Linked DNA regions of Homo sapiens: region 2 is linked to region 1. Evidence: fine-mapped expression QTL. A gene starts in region 1. The other region holds a variant in brackets. All regions are shown on one strand. Distances are between the middles of the regions. Region 1 holds the start of EFHB (EF-hand domain family member B). Region 2 overlaps EFHB (EF-hand domain family member B).

The links. PIP is the estimated chance that this variant, and not a neighbour inherited with it, causes the effect. A credible set is the group of variants that fine-mapping cannot tell apart.
Region 2: its variant is the best candidate, but not a certain one, in a credible set for the expression of EFHB in nasal epithelium (TOPMed, PIP 0.60).

What each region holds. Positions count from the first base shown.
Region 1 is chr3:19,931,075-19,936,456 of GRCh38, forward strand. EFHB (EF-hand domain family member B) reads right to left here and starts at 3,143. Exons shown (of 13, transcript NM_144715.4): 1 at 2,156-3,143. The coding sequence starts at 2,944. RefSeq lists a silencer at 143-437.
Region 2 is chr3:19,897,597-19,902,978 of GRCh38, forward strand. EFHB (EF-hand domain family member B) reads right to left here. Exons shown (of 13, transcript NM_144715.4): 7 at 1,836-1,919; 8 at 1,182-1,249. Among named protein-coding and RNA genes, the nearest start is that of EFHB, 34 kb to the right of the region's middle. The variant G/A (reference allele first, on the strand shown) is at 2,370.

The DNA.
Region 1 (5,382 bases):
ATCGCTTAAGCCTGGGAGGCCGAGTTTGCAGCAAGCTGAGATTGCACCCCTGCACTCCAGCCTGGGTGATGGAGTGAGACTCTGTCTCAAAAAACAAAACAAAACAAAAAAACCCTCCTGCCTCAGCCTCCCAAAGTGCTGGGATTACAGCTAGTGCCACTGCACAAGGCCTATCAGAGATGATTTAACACTGCTGGTCACTCTCTCCTTGACACTCTCTTTCTTGTCCTATCACATTTAGAAAGGAAGGTATGCGAAGTGGGAGGAAGCAGAGGTTTTAGAATTGCCTGTGCTGGAAACTGGAAGCTGGTGTCTGCATGTGTGTGAGATCAGATCAGATCAGAAGCTGTAAATTGCAGAACCAATCCAGAAATGGGAACCGGTGTGGTCAAGTAAAGTGGCTGGGAAAACCCAAAGAGGAAACCAGAAAGCAGTGTGAGACAAAGAAGAAAAGAACATTCTGAGTCTGAAGGGGAAAAGTCTTCAAACCCAGACAAAATTCTGTGGAAGCCCTGTGACCTCTTCAGCTGAGTTTTATTTTCAAATTTCAGTGTGTGGAATCTCTTACTCACATTATAACTTAAGGACACTTTCTTATGTTTCTCAATACCAATGTCTCAGACTTACTTTTTTCTTCTCCGACTGGTCTTTCTCCCATTTAATCATCCGGGTTTCCTTCTATTTATCAAACATGTATTTATTGAATGACCACCATAAGCCAGGTATTGTGGTATGACATGAAGGTAAACAATGAACAAGATATAGTCCTTGCCCTCAAGAACTCACCTTATTGACATCTTTTTCACTGACCACCTCATGTCAATGTTTCCCAAGATTCTTGCCTTGACTTTCTTCTCCCATTCACACCCATGGGGCATCAATTGTCTCATATTACCAAGTGTTTCCCTGGCTTCTTTACCTGTCATCTCATATTGAAGATAGCCAACACTGGACATTCATTTGCCACCAAACCCAAAGAGATCATTATCAACACAGAAACTCCTGAGTCATCCACCAACTTCCCTTACTCACCACGTAGATCCACAACTGAGTGGCAATTTTTTAAAATGTCATCTAAAAACCTCTCAAAAGTGCAGTCTCCTTTCTATTCTTTCTAACTCTACATTAATTCCAGTCCATCAGAACTTTGGAATGTTGTTCTAACTACCTACTTGTCATTCAGTATCTCCCCCTTCCAGTCCATCATAACTACTGATATCAGAATTATCTTTCTAAAAGGCAAATTTTATTTATTTTTACCCTTATTAAGATCCACCATTGATACTGTATCCATATGTTTTATCCCTATATTCTGGGCCTTTAGATGTCTTCTACATATTTCTTCTTCATCTTCATCTCTCAACACCCTGCTGGCTGAATACAACTGTTTATGCCTCTCGAACATAGGAAGCTTTGGTTGTGCTCTATACCTTTTTATGCCCAAAATGCTCTAACCTCATTCTTTCTTCAGACAAATACTGACACCTTTCGATGTTAGCTCAAATATTACTTTCCCTATTAAGCTTTTCCCATCTCTTCTAAACAGAATTGTGCAATCTTTACACTGAGCTCTGTATTCAGAGTGTACTTCTATGAAGGAAGAATCATGTGTGTTTTTATAAATTTAGATAACTGTATACTATTCCTTTAGTTATCTGTCTCCATTACTGGAGTGAGCCTAAACCTAGAGGTAGGGACCATGTACTTTTCAATTTAGTTTGTCCTGTACCTGGCACAATGGCTACCACAAGTCTTTGCTGAAAGAACAAATAACTCACAGACTAAACAATGAATGGAAAAAGAAACACTTTTCTTTTCCATTCATAGTATGAATATTAGGGCACAGCATGTATCTTCATGTATTTCAATATGTGAGAGGCTTGAGGAAAATGAAATGAAGGTTAAAGGAGAAAAGAGAAATCAGAACAAACCACCGGTGTGCAGAGAAAACAAAGCTGACATCTAGGAAGGGAGGCAGAGAATCAGAAATCTAAGTAACATCTGCAAAGATTCCAGTGGGGCAAGAAATATAGGAATCTCATAAAATCCTTGTGATTTGTCTCTTCAAACCAAAACAAATTTTATCACTTTATCATCTCAATAAAGACATGGCTATACACAGTTTAGTTCCTATGGAAAGTGGAAAAAAACTTACACTTGGCCAGCAAGGGGTCCGATCAAAAAACTTCCCAGAGTATATGGGTCTGATGCGATCTGGAGGTTCCACTCCTGATTCAATGTTTCCAGCCTCCTTTCTCTGTTCATGTTGTTGGGCAAACTGGCATTGGGGAGGTTCTATCACCAAGCCCATTTGGGGCTCTGTATTCTTAGTCTCATCTGGCCCCTCGGCTTGGGTTAGTCCAATGTCCACCTCCACAGGAAGCTTAATCTCTGTGTTGGGTTTCATTAAAACACAGGTAGACTCTTTTTCCATTTCCTGTCTTGGTTCCATAACGAAAGCAGGCTTTCCCACTAATTCCTCTACCCCTTCAGGGCCACTAGCCAAAGGAGCTCTCCTGCTCCCTGCAGCCTGTGAACTTCCACACACCCTGCCCAAAGGAGGCTGTATTATCCGTTCATGGGTATATCCTGCAAGAAGACTCTCATTTTCTAACCCCATTCTTCCTGGCAACAGAGAAGGTTTTGTTCCCTGTGAAGCTGAGACACTGTCGACTCCTAAACTACCCCTCTGCATGACAGTCCTAGAAATATTCTGTCTTTCTAATCCCATTTCAAGCCCCTTGCTCAATGGAAATTTTGTTTCTGGTGGTGCCATCCTTCCCTCACACTTATTACTAACCACAGGGCTCTCCCCGCATCGGGAATCTTCTTTTCCTAATCCTACTCTGATCCCCAACTCCATGGGAAATTTTGTTCCCATGATGACCCTCTTGTCTCCTAAATCATCCTTTCCTTCGTGGGGATGTCCAATCTCCATGTTCATGGACGATTTCTCCCCATTCTCATTTCTCCAAGAGCGCTCATCTCTAAGGGGAAAGCTGTACCTGGCTACAAAGACGCCTCCAATCCCTTGCGGAACCCCTCTCTCAGGAAAGAGCACAACCTCACTCGGACTCCCTGTCCATTGCTTCCTGCCTGCCTCTTAACACCTAGCCGAGTTCACAGAGGAAAAGATGGAGTCTGTTTATCAGGTTACCTGGGAAACAGGGGCGGGGCTTGGCGCTCAAGTCCTGCTTGGACAGATCCCTGCCCATCTCTCATTCTTCTCTCTCTCTCTCTCAATCTCTCTCTCTCTCCCCTCTTCTCTCTCCTCTGTCTCTCTCTCTCCCCTCTTCTCTCTCCTCTGTTTCTCTCTGCCCCCCCTTCTCTCTCCTCTCTCTCCCTCTCCTCTCCTTTGCCCTCTCCCTCTCTCTCCCTCTCTGTGTGTCTCTCTCTCTTGCCTTTCCTCTCTCCTTTCTCCCTCTCTCCCCTCCCTCCCCCTCTTCCCCTCTATCCCTGCTTCCTCTCTCTTTTTCTTTGCTAGATTTGGAGGGCGAGAAAATTTGAGTGATGTGGCTTTCGGCGCATCAAATGTTCACCAACTTCTCTGGTTTCCCAAGCAACACAGTCGTTTTAGAATGGTTTCAACAATTGGCTTCTTCCTGGCCATTGGCCTCTTAATGTTGGTGATGATGAACAAATAAACTTTCTGGTGATGAACACTTTTTTTAGGTCCTTCCTTGTCCAAGTACCTCCGCCCTGCATGTAGTTATTTTAGTGCTAAAAAATGACTTTAAATTCTAGAAATATTATATTTGACAACTGTGGCATAAAGACATCTTAAAGTCCTTGAGAACACTTACACTTTAACAACTAGGCTTTAAATCACATTTAAAGTAATTTTTTTTTTTTTTGAGATGGAGTCTCCCTTTGTCGCCCAGGCTGGAGTGCAGTGGCACAATCTGGGCTCACTGCAAACTCCGCCTCCTGGGTCCAAGCGATTCTCCTGCCTCAGCCTTCCGGGTAGCTGGGATTACAGGCATGCGCCACCATGCTAGGCTAATTTTTGTATCTTGAGTAGAAACGGGGTTTCACCATGTTGGCCAGGCTGGTCTCAAACACCTGACCTCAAGTGATCCACCGCCTCGGCCTTCCAAAGTGTCGGATTACAGGCGTGAGCCACTGCTCCTGGCCTAAACTAAATATTTTAAAGTTTGAGATATGCTACACAATAAGGCATATTGTATTTTAAAGATAATGTGGCAAACTAAAACTTCATTGTTTTTAAGTAGGAGATTTTTTTTTAAATTGAGGTTTCACCTTTCAGATTTTAATGAAAGTATATTTGGTAAATATTTGTCATGTTCTACACATATAGGATATGAAACCCCTAGCTTGGAATTTGAACTGAATTAGGCTGGGCACAGTGGCTCACACCTTTAATCCCAGCACTTTGGGAGGCCGAGGCAGGCAGATCACTTGAGGTCAGGAGTTTGAGACCAGCCTGGCCAACATCGCGAAACCCTGTCTCTACTAAAAATATAAAAATTAGCTGGGCATGGTGTCCAGCGCCTGTAATCCCAGCTACTCAGGAGGCTGAGGCAAGAGAATCATTTAAACCCGGAGGCAGAGGTTGCAGTGAGCCTTGATGGTGCCACGACACTCAAGCCTGAACAACAGAGTGAGATTCCATTTAAAAATAAAAAACCAAAAATGGCCGGGCGCAGTGGCTCATGCCTGTAATCCCGGCACTTTGGGAGGTAGAGGCGGGTGGATCACGAGGTCAGGAGTTCGAGACCATCCTGGCCAACATGGTGAAACCCCGTTTCTACTTAAAATACAAAAATTAGCTGGGCCTGATGGCAGGCGCCTGTAGTCCCAGCTACTTGGGAGGCTGAGGTAGAAGAATCGCTTGAACCTGGGAGGCGGAGGTTGCAGTAAGCCGAGATCACACCACTGCACTCCAGCCTGGCGACAGAGTGAGACTCCATCTCAAAAAAAAAAAAAAAAAAAAAGCAAAACAGAATTTGAAAAGAATTTACAGGATTCCAGAACTCTACAAAAACCCCTTAAAATCCAAAAATATTTTTTTAAAAGTGTGTAGGGGTCTGGACATAGTCACTCACCTGTAATCTCAACACTTCGGGAAGCCAAGGCAGAAGAATTGCTTAACGCCAAGAATTCAATTAGCCCAGCGTGGTGGCTCACATCTGTAGTCTCAGCTATCTGAGAGGCTGAAGTGGGAGGATCACTTGAGCCCAGGAGGTCTATGCGGCAGTGAGCCATCATTGCACCATTGCATGCCAGCCTGGGCGACAGACTGAAAAAAAAAAAAGTCCAGGAGTTCAAGACATGCATGGGTAACACAGTGAGACCTATCCCTACAAAAAATTTCAAAAATCAGCCAGGTGTAGTGGTACATGCCTATAGTCCTAGCTACTC
Region 2 (5,382 bases), 33 kb before region 1:
AAAGATGTCCTATGTGCTGGACCCTGAGGATCCAACAGACAGCAAGACAGAGCACCCACCAGCATGAAGCTTGCCCTCAAACAGGCAGAATTTACCATGATTACCTACTTCTTTTTCAAGCTAATTGATGGTTTCCTAATCATCCCTTACCCTCTTCAAAAGATATTAAAGCCTCTAAGATGGATAGGCATCCATCAAACATTAGTAGTTTGTGTAAAAACAGAACCCAAATACAATTTCCTAATGTAGTAATTAATGATGCTCCAAACCACTGTCTTGCATAAGCTCAATAAATATTTATTCTACCTGTCAATGAGTTGACTTTAGCCAAAACATTTTTCATAGTGGTTCTTAAACGTTAGTGTATATAAGAACCTACTGAATCAGAATATCTAGGGCATGGGTCCCAGGAAGGTGCAGATTTAATAAACTCCCTGGATGATTTTAATGCAGGTAGTCTGCAGCCCATGTTTTGAAAACCACTGATATACAGCCCAATCCTGATAAGCTGTAGCATATTTTTCCCTTTGGATATCTGCTGTTTAGATTGGCTAGAAATAAAGACAAAATCCAAGTAAGTTTCTTCTGCTACTTTATGTATTGATTGATTGATCAACTTACTGGCTAGCTGGCTGGCTGGTAGGAAAAGAGTGGTTCTTAATTATGTGGTTGTAGAGTACAGTGCTTTCTCATATTTGAATGTGCTTAAAATTCACCTGGAAATATAGTTAAAATGCAGTTTCTGATTCAATAGTTCTGGGATGGGGCCTGAGATTCTGCATTTCTAAGGAGCTCCCAGGGGATGCCAATACTGGCAGTCTGCAGACCACACTTTGAGACGTTAGGACTAGGACAATATCCAAATTAATTAAAAAGCTGCCCCACTTCACTTTGGCTTGTTTAATATAGGCCATATTTATTTTTCCTAAATAAAATTCAAAGCCTTAACTACACTTACAGTACTTATTACAAGGGCTTCCAACTGTACCTATTTCAAACATAATATGAAAAAAAATTTACTTCTGTGTTATACACTTTTCTCATTAATGTTAATGCAACATTTTAAGTCTTTAAAATTAGAAGCTTTGAAATAAGGAGATGGTGAGCTTAACTGCATAACTTTGTGGGGATTTTGTTGCTGTTTGTTTGGGGTTTTTTACGGAGAAAGTGTGTATATTTACCATATTCCTCAGGACGGAGACAAGCTCCAAATGTGCAGTCTGGGGGAACATTCATTGTTTCTGCAATGCTATCAAAGAAAACAAATCCTTAGTTAAAATACCCACCACATGGCATCTCTGGAATTTAAAATATGTTTGCCATATGTTCTTAGTAGCCCATATTTTATCTCATAACCAAACTATGAAGATCAAACAAAAGTTCTCCAATAGATCTTTTGTCTGATCTTCCACTTGCATTAACAATGACTGAATGTTTTCACCCTCTTTCAGGAGCCCAGAATTACAAAGAAAAGCAGAACACACAGAACACATTCAAAGCAAAATTACCAAAGTATAAATAGAGAGCAAGACAGACAGACAGGAAAGACAAAGAAAAATATAAACACAGTAAGTTAAATCTCTGATATCCCAGAAATAATGCTTTATGCAAAATTATCCCTCTCTCTTCTCCAGTGCCTTCTGCATTTTGGAGAACTCACTGCTTTCCTGGAATCCCAAATTCTATAGATATTAACAGATTAACTGATTAACAATAAAATAATGATTTTCTTATTTAATAGATAGAATCTAATAGGCACACCAACAGTTACCACAAGAGTATTTTTTAAATTCTATGCAAAGAAACTATCAATTTGAAGTTAATCATTAACTTACGGATCTAAAACTCTTCCAAGTTTATGTTGAAACTTTTCTTTGAAATCATCTGCTCTTTTGGATACAAACTTAGCTCCTCTTTTCCTGCAAAATTAGAACATTATCAGGTATCTCTATTACCTAAAGTATTCTTGGCTGCCAAATATACATAAGGCGAAGAATACCATAGTATCATTAGGCCTTCCAGGAACAAATGTAGTTTCAAAAGAAACTCTCTGCTAAAAAGAAAGTTTTATGTGTTCATTTTTCTTTCATTTACACTAAAATAAAATAAACCTTGATTAATGAATAAGGTAAGCAAACAATATTTTTAATAAATAAAACAAGGTGTTAATATCACTATTGTAAGTGTAGCTCCTGGCCGGGCACAGTGGCTCACTGCTGTAATCCCAACACTTTGGGAGGCTGAGGTGGGCAGATGGCTTGAGCTCAGGAGTTTGAGACTAGCCTGGGCAACATGGCAAAACCCTGTCTCTTAAAAAAATACAAAAACTAGCTGGGCGTGGTGGCATGTACCTGTAGTCCCAGCTACTC[G/A]AGAGGCTGAGCTAGGAAGATCGCTTGAGACTGGGAGGCTGAGGTTGCAGTGAGCTGAGATGACGTCACTGTACTCCAGCCTGGGTGACAGAGTGAGACCCTGTCTCAAAAAAATAAAATAAAGTAAGTGTAACTCGTAAAATTGCTAGAAGAAAATTAAGCATCAGGCCAGGCACAGTGGTTCATGCCTGTAATCTCAATACTTTAGGAAGCTAAAGCTGGAGGATCAATCGAGGCTAGGAATTTGAGACGAGCCTGGGTAACATAGTGAGATCCCATCTCTACAAAAAATGAAAATAAAAATAAAAAAATTTAGCATCAAATAAATAAATAGCCAAAGGATATAAACAAATAACTCACATCTAGTAAGCAAATACATGGAGAATTTATAATACTCTCTAGTAATAAAATAAATGTAAAATAAAAGAATAACAAAGTGCCACTTCTAACCTAGTAAACAAGCAAATATATATAAGCATATGGAGAGAGAAAGAATATCTAACTTTGGCAAAAAAATATGGTAAAACACTTACAGATTGCTAGTGCAAATTCCTACAGTTCTTTTGAAAATAATTGGGCAATATGAATCAAAAAGCATAAAAACACTCATGCCCTTTTATCCACATCTGGGAACCAATAATAATGATATAATCCAGATAGCAATTAAAAATGTAGAAAAGAGCCTGGGCACGGTGGCTCATACCTGTAATCCCACCACTTTGGGAGGCTAAAGTGGGCAGATCACTTGAGGTCAGGAGTTCAAGACCAGCCTGACCAACATGGTGAAACCCCATCTCTACTAAAACTACAAAAATTAGCCAGGTGTGGTGGAACACGCCTGTAATCCCAGGTACTTGGGAGGCTGAGGCAGGACAGTCACTTGAACCTGGGAGTCAGAGGCTGCAGTAAGCCAAGATCATGCCACGGCACCCCAGCCTGGGCAACAAAGTGAGCCTGTCTCAAAAAAAAAAAAAATGTAGAAAAGTTATATGTATAAAAAATGTTTGTAGCCTCATTGATGACAGTGGAATAAAGAAAAGAATCAAAATGTTCAGTTGTGGAGGGTAATTAAATTCTGTCACATCAATAAGAATACACTGCATGCATTTTCAATGCTGGCATATACAGCAATATATAATTATTTTATGTTAGGTGGAAAACAGGATATAAAATGGGATTGCACTCTGGTAAAAACTATGCAAAAATCTACATAGGGAGCCACACTAGGAAAAAATACATTAAAATGATAATAATGGCTGAATTAAAGTGAACAGGATTATGAGCGATTTTATTTTGCCAGTTTTCTGTAAAATAATTTTGTTACTTCTACTGTTGTGATTAAATGAATAAAATTTCTTTTGAAACGTGTAAAATTACAACACTACTATTTAATAACATTAAAATTAATAAATTCTCTATTGTTTTGCTAAGACTAAAGACAATGAACATTACATTCTTAAAACTCCATTTGCTTTTCAAAGTATCTCCTGTACTATTGAACTACTGAGCTGAATAAATTTCTGGAGAAGAGTGACACTCTGTGGAGGAACAAAAGAAGAAACATAAGTAATTCATCTCGTTTCTTCATTTCCTTCCCATTTGTTGGCGGGGGGGAAGAATGTAGGTGGAGTCAGAATAAATCAATGCAGTTTAGGGCTATAACTTGAACAAACAGAGTTAACAATCTAAAAATCAGCTCCAGGCCAGGCGCAGCGGCTCACACCTGTAATCCCAGCACTTTGGGAGGTCGAAGCAGGTGGATCACCCTGAGGTCAGGAGTTCGAGATCAGCCTGGCCCACATGGCAAAACCCCATCTCTACTAAAAATACAAAAATTAGCCAGGCCTGGTGATGGGCACCTGTAATCCCAGCTACTTGGGAGGCTGAGGCAGGAGAATCGCTTGAACCCAGGAGGCAGAGGTTGCAGTGAGCCAAGATCACACCACTGCACTCCAGCCTGGGCAACAGAGTGAAACTCTGTCTCAAAAAAAAAAAAAAATCAGCTCCAAGGTACATAATTAGGAACATGCAGAGATGATAAGAAAAAGAACTGTCAGGCACAGAGCCAACTCTTTTTAGTCAAGAACTGCCTGGAGTATGCTTCTGCAACAATCAGGAAGTATCTGTGGGCAACCATGTATGTCAGAATATCAATAACTGCAACATCATTACACAACAATCTTGAGTTGCATTCACGAACCAACTCAGATAAAGCTCTTTGTGTGCCAGTGAATTCATTCGTTCACACATGCGCACAAACACATGCACTCGCACAGGCATGCCTACATCTGATGACTCAAACCAAAGTTTGATTTGACTTTGGTTTGATTATTCAAACCAAAGGTCACAGGCAAAATATAGATAGAGATCGTTTTTGTTTGTTTGTTTGTTTTTGTTTTTGTTTTTTGAGACAGAGTCTTGCTCTGTCACCCAGGCTGGAGTGCAATGGCGCCATCTCAGCTCACTTAAACCTCCACCTCCCGGGTTCAAGCGATTCTCCTGCCTCAGCCTCCCAAGTAGCTGGGACTACAGGTGCGTGCCACCACACTCAGCTAATTTTTGTATTTTTAGTAGAGACAGGGCTTCACTATGTGGCCAGGCTGGTCTCGAACTCCTGACCTTGTGATCTGCCTGCCTCAGCCTCCCAAAGTGCTGGGATTACAGGCATGAGCCACCATGCCCAGCCAATAGAGATCCTCTTTTACAGGGGAAATATATCCCATAAAAGTTGAGAGTAAACCAAATTTACATTAAATCGTGCATATAAAATTAGATGCCTCAAAATGTAGACTAACACTCTTGACTCCACGTTTGTAACAGAAATCAAACTGAATGAAGTAGTGAGCTCTTTTTAAACTGCAACCAAAAGAATAAAGAATTTCTCTACTGCTAGCAATAACATTCCAATTAAGTTTCAAAATACAAAAAGGGCTGGGCACAGTGGCTCACGCCTGTAATCCCAGCACTTTGGGAGGCTGAGGCGGGCGGATCACCTGAGGTCATGAGTTCAAGA